Linked DNA regions of Homo sapiens. The protein of the gene in region 3 interacts with the protein of the main gene of each other region in a biochemical or structural test. Each region holds a gene or a part of one and is shown on either strand. Other genes may lie near its edges. The genes, in order: NUP155, NUP205 and NUP35.

The links.
Region 1: the proteins of NUP35 (region 3) and NUP155 form a complex in vitro, tested with the Homo sapiens proteins (one study listed by BioGRID).
Region 2: the proteins of NUP35 (region 3) and NUP205 form a complex in vitro, tested with the Homo sapiens proteins (one study listed by BioGRID).

The regions. Positions count from the first base shown.
Region 1 is NC_000005.10:37,287,506-37,291,129, reverse strand, and holds the end of NUP155 (nuclear pore complex protein Nup155), read left to right. Parts: 3' UTR 1-2,993; downstream 2,994-3,624.
Region 2 is NC_000007.14:135,560,802-135,564,555, reverse strand, and holds part of NUP205 (nuclear pore complex protein Nup205), read right to left. Parts: intron 1-3,754. UniProt on the Homo sapiens protein: Plays a role in the nuclear pore complex (NPC) assembly and/or maintenance. May anchor NUP62 and other nucleoporins, but not NUP153 and TPR, to the NPC.
Region 3 is NC_000002.12:183,127,443-183,131,196, reverse strand, and holds part of NUP35 (nucleoporin NUP35), read right to left. Parts: intron 2,911-3,754; coding exon 2,740-2,910; intron 780-2,739; coding exon 652-779; intron 203-651; exon of another isoform or gene 80-202; intron 1-79. UniProt on the Homo sapiens protein: Functions as a component of the nuclear pore complex (NPC).

The DNA.
Region 1 (3,624 bases), on a different chromosome or scaffold from region 3:
GAACTGTCCTCTAACAACTGGTTTTGTCAGTTAAAGCCCTTGAGAATTGACATAGCTATATACCTGGTTGAGCAGGTGATAAAACTTGTAACTAATGTTGTGTCCTGAAAACCTACACAGGGAGGTACTGTTTTCCCTTAGTGTCTACCTGGCTGCTTGGCCTTGTGACTACTGATTCCATTAGAGCAGTGGTTCTCAAAGTATGTGCTCCAAACCAGAAGCATCAGCATCAGCATCAGCATCACCTAGGAATTTGTTAGAAATGCAAATTCTCGAGCCCCAACCCAGACCTACTGAATCAAAAACGTGGGGGATGAGGCCCTGCTTTCTATGTTTTAACAAGCTCTCCAGGAGATTTTGGTGCATGTCAAATTTGAAAGCCACTGCAGTAAAGGATACTGCTACCTTCCATAGTTTATGGACTGAGCTACCTATCTGGCTCCTCCTCTGTGAATAACCACACACACAAATTTTGCCCAAGGCACACAATATATAAAGCAAAACTGTTAGTAATGTACTTTTTAATTATTCCTTAACAAAATAGAATAACCAAACCAAATGCTTCAAAGTAATAGCAACAAGAGAGAAGAAGAGTGGGAATGACCAGAGCTAACAAAACACTCTATTCCTTTCTCTCTTTTTTTTTTTTTTGGAGACAGAATCTCACCCTGTAGCCCAGCCTGGAGTGCAGTGGTGCGATCCCGGCTCACTGCAACCTCTGCCTCACAGGTTTGAAGCAATTTGCCTGCCTCAGCCTCTCGAGTAGCTGGGATTGCAGGTGTGCGCCACCATACCCAGCTAATTTTTGTATTTTTAGTAGAGATGGGTTTCACCATGTTGGCCAGGCTGGTCTTGAACTCCTGACCTCAAGTGATCTGCCCGCCTCCACCTCCCAAAGTGTTGAGATTACAGACGTGAGCCAATGTGCCTGGCCTATTCCCTTCTCTCTTTATGCTACCACAAATAATTACCTTCTGTTTATTGTAAGTGATGCATGTCTAACAATTTGTACAATACATTTTGAATATATTTTTCCTTCCATTATTGTCTTTTCCCAAGACCATAGGGTTGCCTTCTCTACATTTGTTCTCTTAGAATTCAGCTCCCTTTTCCCTATAATCTTCTAATGTAGAATATTTAATAGAATGCCAGAACGTCACTCAGTGGGTACTACTACCTCTTATTTTTCAACTTTTCAGTTTCTTAAGTTTAGCGTTTTTTGAATATGTAAAGTGAATGTATGCGATACATTAATTCGTTTTATAAATTTAAAATTCTGTCATGTCTACTTAAAAGGAAGGCCTTGTCTGAATGTTGTAATTTAGGTGTGACTCCAGTTCTGCTAGAGATAAGAACTTCATTTTTGTTTTAAGCACATTTACATACTAGCAATATGTTGTTATATATACTCAGCTCACAACATTGAAAGTACATGTTTTAAAAGGGCTGTAGGCTTCCATGGTTAGATGGTCTGTTAGAGTCAGAAATCTGAACACTGTCCTTTTATTCACACAGCATGCTTTGAGAGGTTTTAGGAATTCCAGCCCCACAACAGATGCTTGCAATACCTTTTGGGGGGTAAGATTCCTAAGAGAGAAGAAATTAGGTCCCCTCATTTTTACCCTTGGAACAGTGTTTCTAAAACTTTCACATTCAGAACAATCAGCCGGATAGCCTGTTATGACAGATTCTTGAGTTCCATCTGTAGTGTCATGCTGATCCTGGCAGTCAGTGGATCAGAGTTGGAGTAGCATTTATCCACTGTATTAGTATACTTTGTACTTGGTGTTTGTTCAACGCATTACTTTTTTGAATTTTTTTGTTTTTTGAAGACAAGGGCTTGCCCTGGAGTGCAGTGGCATGATCTTGGCTCACTGCAGCCTCGAGCTCCTGGGCTCAACTCAGTCTTCCCACCTCATCCTCTTAAATAGCTGGGACTACAGGCACGTGCTGCTACACCCTGCTATTGTCTGTTTGTTTGTTTGAGACTGAGTTTTGCTCTTGTTGCCCAGGCTGGAGTGCAATGGCACAATCTTGGCTCACCACAGCCTTTTTTATGAGACTGAGTTTTGCTCTTGTTGCCCAGGCTGGAGTGCAATGGCACGATCTTGGCTCACCACAACCTCCACTTCCTGGGTTCAAGCAATTCTTCTGCCTCAGCCTCCCGAGTAGCTGAGATTACAGGCATGCGCCACCATGCCTGGCTAATTTTTTTTTTTTGTATTTTTAGTAGAGATGGGGTTTCACCGTGTTGGTCAGGCTGGTCTTGAACTCCTGACCTCAGGTGATCCACCCCCCTTGGCCTCCCAAAGAGCTGGGATTACAGGCATGAGCCACTGCGCCTAGCCCCACCCCCCCTACTTTTTTTTTTTTTTTTTTTTTAATTTTTTGTGTAGCCAAAAGATCTCACTCTGTTGCCCAGACTGCTCTCAAAACTCCTGGCCTTAAGTGATTCCCCTGCCTCAGTCTCCCAAAGTGCTGGGATTATAGGCATGAGCCACCATGCCTGTCCATTATTTCTTTATAGTGACTATTATATGTAGGCAATGTATAATTGGTAGAACATAGTCTATGAAACAGTGCGTTAATTGTGGGCAGTGAAGAATCATTGAAGTTGTGAAATTTGTATTTTAACTAGATCATTGTAGTATGGCAAAACGGTTAGGAAAGAGAAAGCTATCTTGACTAACTGTTTATGCTATGAGATACTGACTGATGTACATGTACATTTAGTGTTTCTTTAGGTATACCTGACTTATTCATTGAACACCTATCCACTGATCTCAAAAGTATTCCTCAGGGTAGTCTCCATTCCTGTCATTTTTCCTCCTATTCATGAGACGGAAAAATTATGACCATGGTACAGAGTTGTATCAAGGAAATGAAGAACTAGAACATTGAATTGAAAGGTTTTGAAAGGGTTCACAATTTCTTTTCATTTTCTATTAATGTCTTCTTTTAAATTCTCTTAAGAATAAAACTTTTTTCTAATATTTTAAGTCTTCCATTAAATCATTGAAACTCTTCTGAGCTTCGTTTTCCTCATATATAAATGAGATTGAAGCCAAATAATAAAACTTTAAAAATCAATCAAGGGCCAGGTGCAGTGTCTTACACCTGTAATCCCAGAACTTTGGGAGGCCAAGGCAGGTAGATCACCTGAGGTCAGGAGTTTGAGACCAGCCTGACCAACATGGTGAAACCCCGTCTCTACCAAAAATACAAAAAAGTTAGCCGGGTGTGGTGGTGGGTGCCTGTAGTCCCAGCTACTTGGGAGGCTGAGGCATGAGAATCACTTGAACCTTGGAGACAGAGGTGCAGTGAGCTGAAATCCCACACCACTGCACTCCAGCCTGGGCGACAGAGGAAGACTTGGTCTCAAAAACAAAACAAAATCAATTTACCATGTGGGATCCGGGATCCCCATGTATGTTTTCAACCCACATTAGAAATGACCCCCTAAAGCACCTCTGTCAAAACAACCAAACCTGAACTCATCCCTCTCTGCCCTCTGCCCACTCTTGCTGTTCTTCCTTGTTTTCTACCTCTTTATTGTCTCAAATAGAAAATATGAAAATCATTACATTGTCCTCCCTTCAAAACCAGTTTTTAAGCAAGTCTACT
Region 2 (3,754 bases), on a different chromosome or scaffold from region 3:
AAAAAACAGGCCGGGCGTGGTGACTCATGCCTGTAATCCAGCACTTTGGGAGGCCGAGGTGGGCAGATCACAAGGTCAGGAGTTCAAGACCAGCATGGCCAACATGGTGAAACCCTGTCTCTACTAAACACACACAAAAAAATTAGCTGGGCATGGTGGCTAACACCTGTAATCCCAGTTACTTGGGAGGCCGGGGCAGGAGAATTGCTTGAACCCAGGAGGCAGAGGTTGCAGTCACCTGAGATCATGCCATTGCACTCCAGCCTGGGTGACAGGGCAAGACTCCGTCTCAAAAAAAAAAAAAAAAAAATAGCTGGGCATGGTGGCTTGTGCCTATAGTCTCAGCTACTCATGAGGCTGAAGTGGGAGGATCACCTGAGTCTCAGAGGGTAGAGGCTGTAGTATGCCATGACTGAGCCACTGCACTCCAGCGTGGGCAACAGAGTGAAACCTCGTCTCAAAGAAGAAAAAGAAAAAAAAAACACCAAAGGTAGCCGCAACAAAGAGTTATCTTCAATCTGTCTTGAGTTTGACCAATTTCAGTAAACACCTTTTTTTTGTTTGTTTTTTGTGACAGGGTCTTGCTGTCACCCAGGCTGGAGTGCAGTGAGGCAATCACAGCTCATTACAGCCTCAAACTCCTGGGCTCAAGCAACCTCCTGCCTCAGCTTCTCTAGTAGCTAGGATTACAGGCGCACGCGCACCACCAGACCTGGCTAATTTTTGTATTTTTTGTAGAACTGGGATGTTGCTATGTTGCCCAGGCTTGCCTTGAACTCCTGGCCTCAAGTGATCCTCCCTCCTCAGCCTCCTAAAGTGCTAGGATTACAGTAAATATCTTTTTTACTGATTACAAATGAAGGGACACTATAAATTTTTCAAAATTACTAAATATGTATTTTTACCATGTAGTTTAGTCAGTTGAGAAATACATTTATTTTCCTTAATGTTTAGGGATACCTCCAGCAAATCACATTTACTCACTCATTCACCATGTGTGAGGTATTGGTAAGATTATACTGCAGTGAGGAAAAACATTAATCATAATCATACATAAATGTAAAATCTGGCCGGGCACAGTGGCTCACGCCTGTAATCCCACCACTTTGAGAGGCCAAGGCGGGCCACATCACGAGGTCAGGAGATCAAGACCGTCCTGGCCAACACAGCGAAACCCCGTCTCTACCAAAAATACAAAAAATTAGCCAGGCGTGATGGCATGCGCCTGTAGTCCCAGCTGCTAGGGAGGCTGAGGCAGGAGAATCGCTTGAACCCAGGAGGCGGAGGCTGCAGTGAGCCGAGATCACGCCACTGCACTCCAGCCTGGGCTACAGAGTAAGACTCCATCTCAAAAAATAAAAAAATAAATAAAAATAAAATAAAATCCAACTGTGGTCAGGATATGAAGGATATGAAGGAGAGGTAGCCAGGGCAAGAGATCACATAATAGGGGACTCTGACCTAGCCAGAGGAAAGAATTATCCATGAGGAAGTGATAACTAGGCTGAAATCTGAAGAACAAAAGTGATAGTTAACTGACAGGTGGGAGGTGAAGACATGCATTCCAGGGAGAGGACAACCTGTGGGTTTCCATGGCAAGAGGGAATGCGGCATGTCAAAGAACTCAAAAGGCCAAGAGAGCTGCAGTACAGAAAACGGGTTTGGCAAGATCATCACACAGGGCTCACTTGCCCACGTTAAAGAATTTTGATGACCGAGTGTGGTGGCTCAGGCCTGTAATCCCAGCACTTTGGGATACCGAGGCGGGCAGATACGAGGTCAGGAGATCAAGACCATCCTGGCCAACACGGTGAAACCCTGCTCTACTAAAAATACAAAAATTAGCTGGGTGTGGTGGCGCACGCCTGTAGTCCCAGCTACTCAGGAGGCTGAGGCAAGAGAATCGCTTGAACTTGGGAGGCAGAGGTTTCAGTGAGCCAAGATCGCGCCACTGCACTCCAGCCTGGCAACAGAGCCAGACTCTGTCTCAAAAAAAAAAAAAAAAAAAAAGGATTTTGGTCTTTACTCTAAAAGATCAAGCCAAATGAAGATTTAAAACATGGGGACTTTCTGCTCATGCCTATAACCCCAGCACTTTGGGAGGCCGAGGCAGGTGAATCGTTTGAGGTCAGAAATTCGAGGCACCCCTGGCCAACGTGGTGAAACCCCATCTCTACTAAAATTACAAAAATTAGCCAGGTGTGGTGGTGGGCGCCTGTAATCCCAGCTACTTAGGGAGGCTAAGGCAGGAGAATCTCTTGAACCTGGGAGGCAGAGGTTGTAGTGAGCTGAGATCACACCACCGCACTCCAGTCTGGGCGACAGAATGAGCCCCTGTCTCAAAATAAAAAATAATTTTTTAAAAAGGAACTTTCTGAACTACAAGAAACAGAAGTTAACCCTATTGAGAGCTGTTTACAAGGATGGAAGAGACCAGAATGGGTGAAGGAATAGGAGGTATGAAAAGGGAGTCAGTAGGCTGGGCATAGCAGTTCAGGCCTGTAATCCCAGCTACTAGGCTGAGGCAGGAGAATCATTTAAACTTGGGAGGTGGAGACTGCAGTGAGCCGAGACTGCACCACTGCACTCCAGCCTGGGCAGAGTGAGGGAGGGAGGGAAGGAAGGAAGGAAGGAAGGAGGGAAGGAAGGAAGGAACAAAGGAAGGAAGGAGATGGAGTCCATGAATACTAACAAATCTTTTGAAAGGCTTGACTAGGAAGAGGACAGTAAGTGGAGTGACGCATGAGATCATCAGTGGAGAGAAAGGGAAGAGCAAGAGAGAGAAGTGAATATACAAGACAAAAAAAGGGGTAACAGGTGAAGAACACAATGGGTGGGATTTACATTAGATAGGAAGACAGAGGAAAAGTGATTCAAAAGAATGCAGACACACCTAGGTTTGTAGGTTTGAGAGTGAATAAAGGGAGTTCATGTATGTTGGCTCCTATTTTCTCTGTGACTAGAAGTCTGAGGGTTTAGTTAGTTGCAGGTTAAAGATTTGAAGAGTGTAGAAAGGTCTGAAGTAGTCACTGCTGTGAATGGACGAGGTGACCAGACTATCACAGAAGGACTGCCAAGCAGTGTTAATAGTTGCTTATTCACAAGTCTGTGAGTGTACTCAGCCAGGTTGATACAGGTCACAAGACTAGTTAAGTTATACAGCTGAAATACAAGCATAGGTTTTTTTGTTTGTTTTTTGTTTGTTTGTTTTTAAGACAGAGTCTCGCTCTGTTGCCTAGGCTGGAGTGCAGTGGTATGATCTCGGCTCACTGCAACCTCCTCCTCCTGGGTTCAAGCAATTCTCCTGCCTCAGCCTCCCGAGTAGCTGGGATTACAGACACCTGCCATCATGCCAGGCTAATTTTTGTATTTTTGTAGAGACAGGGTTTCACCATGTTGGCCAGGCTGGTCTCGAACTCCTGACTTCAGGTGATCTGCCCACTTCAGCCTCCCAAAGTGCTGGGATTACAGGCATAAGCCACCACACCTGGCCAACCATAGGTCTTAGAACTCTACAATCTCTGTATTTTTTCCTTACAACTCCAAGATGTTTGATTTTTTAAAACTGTAATTTAAAGGAAGCACATAACATAGAATGCAATCTCAACAAATTTTAAGTGTACAGTTCAGCAGTGTTCAGTGTATTCACATTGTGCAACAGATCTTCACAGCTTTTTTCATCTTGCAAAACAGAAACTCTATGCCCCCTAAACAACTCCCCACTTTCCCCTTTCCCAGCCCCTGGCAACCACCA
Region 3 (3,754 bases):
GGTGCAAGGATCACCTGAATCCGGCAAGACCTCATCTCTACAAAAAAAAATACAATTAGCCAGGCATAGCAGCACGTGCCTATATCCCAATAGGACAGTTGAGGCAGGAGGATTGGTTGAACCCAGGAGTTCAAGGCTGCAGAGTTATGACTGTGCCGCTGCACTCTAGCCTGGGCAACTGATCAGGACCCTGTTGGGGACCCTAAAAAAAGAAGAAAATAAAGACAAGTCCATACTACTTCTCAGCTGACGAGTGCCCTAGATCTAGATGAAACTCTAAATTTTCATTTGTTCTTTCACATAATTTTTAAATATTAAATATTAAACTTCTTAAACAATCAGAATGATTTAAACCATAGTCACATTCTACATGTATATTAAGTAGGTTGGAGCTATGGGCAGGTGGATAAGGCATACCTATAAACACCTGAGAATTACCTATGAGAGAAAATCTAGAGTTCTACACTGTTAAGTACAGTTCATCATCAACACAATTTAAGTAGATTCTATGATGTGTTTAATGTTTATTCTGTGCAACACAGTTACATTAAAACAGACTTCAGGGAAACATTTCAAAGTATTGACTCTCACTGAACAGACACATAAAACCATGATGTTGTTCATTGGGGATCAAAAGGGTATTTATATTACCTGTCTTCTTGAAGTTAAAGGTGTTGATCCAAGTCCTGGGCTAGAAATGTCATCATATATACTTCTAACTGGTGGAGCGCCACTTTTATCTTTATGAGCTGGTACAACTGGTTGTGGTGGTGACCCACCTACAGTGTACAAAAAAAAAAAAAAAAAAAGGGATTCTTCTTTTTGGTAAGATTTTTTAAATTTATATTTTTGAAATACTGACTTAAAATCTTGTCTGTTAGTTCTTTTCAAACTTTAATATGCTGAACAGTCACCTGGGGACCTTGTTAAAATTCAGACTCTGATTCAGAAGGTGTAGGGTGAAGCCTGAGATTATACAGTTCTAATAAGCTCCCAGGTAATGCCAATGCTGCTGATCCATAGACTGCACTCTGAATAAAAGGATTCAGAGTAAGTAGTTAATGAAAATCTTAGTTTTCAGAAAACACATGTAACTTTTGCTCACTCTACAAAACGCTTAACATTTAAATACAAAACTTGATCCCATTTCTCACTTGAAAGTAGGTACTAAACAGCTCCAGTCTGTAGATTCCTGAATAAATACAATTCCCTATGTAGAGTTTGACTATCTAGATTAAGTAGATCCCATTCATGTTTCTCACAGTAGAAATATATTTAAGTACATAATAAAGATGTAGTAAAAGGACCAAGTTCTGTGACATAAAGATGTCTTTATCGATCAGAGAACATGCAATGTCAAATAGTGATGCAGCCCAGGCCATCGGTAAGACTAATGTCTGAGCCTGGACTGTACAGCTTAAGCTATTTAGAGCACAGTCTATGGAATAAGACTAACCTGAGGTTTATAGCGCTCGCTCACTTACTAGCAAGTGAGCTTCAGCAAATTACTTATTGCATTTAGCCTCAGTTTTCTCTTTTTAAAGATGGGGATACTATTACCTACCCTTTAAGATTGACAAAATAATGATTAGCATACTGCCAGGCTCATAAGCAATCAATATACGTTGGCTACCATAATAAAATAACACATTTGAAATTTAATGTTTAATGTTAAATGAATTACTTCAAATATAATTTATAATTCTCCCTGATAAATCCTAAATAATAAACCATTTTAAAGCAAAAATACTTTAAAGGGCAATTAAGGTAAAAAGAGTTTTCACTTGAACTACTACTAAAGGATATTAGCTCACAATTAGAATTCAACACTTCTGTATCTAATTCTCACTACTCAGTTAAAACTTCGAAGTCATTTTTTAAAGTATTTCTTTGCTAAAGGAGTTCTGTAATAAACACAGGCTGCATTTACAATACTTTGCCCTGACAATCACAAATTCTGTGTATAAAACCTCCCCCCCAAGTTTCCTTAAACACGCTATATGTGAGAATCTCAATTCACTAAGACTAAAGGCAGAATTCGTATCTACATCTTCAAGTTACACTTCTTTTGACCGATTATTTCCTATTCTTGTATCTTAAGATGAATTACTTTAAATGAATTCAGTTGAAGCTAAATGATGGTATTTCATCAACTCTGTGAGGCACTCTTCCCCCACCACACTCTGACATCTCCGACACAGAAATTTTACAAAAAATGGCATCTTAGCATTGTGTCATATTTAGGGTTATCTTTCCTAGTGGTACTTAAAAGCCAATTCAAAGGCATCTTAGAATGAAAAAAACATAGAATACATTTTAGTGGCTCTAGAAATTATAGCTTATACTTCTTACACCTCTATTCCAAGAGCCTTAAAAGCTTTGCTTTATAATAGACACATTGCTTAATTTTTTTTAATTAATGTATTGATGAGGGTGAATGCTGCACCACTACACTTTTAAAAATTCTAGCACAAGCTTGTCCCACCCATGGCTTGAACACCGCATGAAGCCCAGGATGGCTTTGAATGTTGCCCAACACAAATTGGTAAACTTTCTTAAAACATTTTAAGATTTTTTTTGCATTTTTTTTTTTTTTTAGCTCATCAGCTATTATTAGAGTTACTGTATTTTATGTGTGGCCCAAGTCAATTCTTCTTCCAATGTGGTTCAGGGAAGCCAAAAAATTGGACATCCCTGTATCTAGCATGTCTATAAAATTATTTTAAGCAATTCACCTACCTGCAAGTAAAGGTGATCTCATTTCCATTACTCCTACTGAAGGGCCACTAATTGATCGAGGTTGTGGAGTCACCGGAGCTGGCAAATCCCCCATTAAAAATCCAGGTAAGAACTGGGCATTAACTCCTGGCTTTGGAGATGTGGGTGAACCCAGCATCATTGGTTCAGATCCTACATGAATCAAAAAATAAATTAAGGACTTTTCTGTTACAGTTTCTGTTACATGTTGATGACAAAAACATGCAAGAATCTAACATAATTTTGCAAATTTAATCAAAACTTTTAGATATAATAGAACCATAGTTGAATTTATTATTTTAAAAGCCAACAAAAAATATTTCTAGAAAAATGTAAAGTTATCTTGTATTCACTTTTTTTTTTTTTCTGAGTCCGAGTCTCACTCTGTCACCAGGCTGGAGTGCAGTGGCGCAATCTCAGCTCACTGCAACCTTCACCTCCTAGGCTCAAGCGATCCTCCCTCCTCAGCCTCTCAGTAGCTAAGTCTACAGGCCTGCACCACCACGCCCAGCTAATTTTTGTATTTTTTTGCAGAAATGGGGTTTCACCATGCTGCCCAGACTGCTCTGGAGCTCCTGAGCTCAGGTGATCCACCAGCCTTGGCCTCCCAAAGTGCTGAGATTAAAGGTGTGAAGCCAGTACACCTGGCAGCACAATATTTATCTGTGACAGCTATTTTTGTTTACATTATTTCAGGGGTTTAAAAATCACACTAATAACTTCTTTCCATTTCCGAATCAGTTTGGACTATGTAACAACCAAAAACAAGGACAGGCTGCACTACTTATACATACAAAGCTTAGCATATCAAACACAATGGGTTAAGCTTGCTAAATTGTTTCTTTTTCTTCCCCATAAAAAGTTCATCATTATTGTGATAAAACCGTAACCATGCATATATTAGAGCACTTACAAAATAACAGTGATAACTAGCACCCTAACTCAGAAACATGTTGAAAAGAGTCGAAAACTTATTTTTGTATCTTTTTTCTTAATC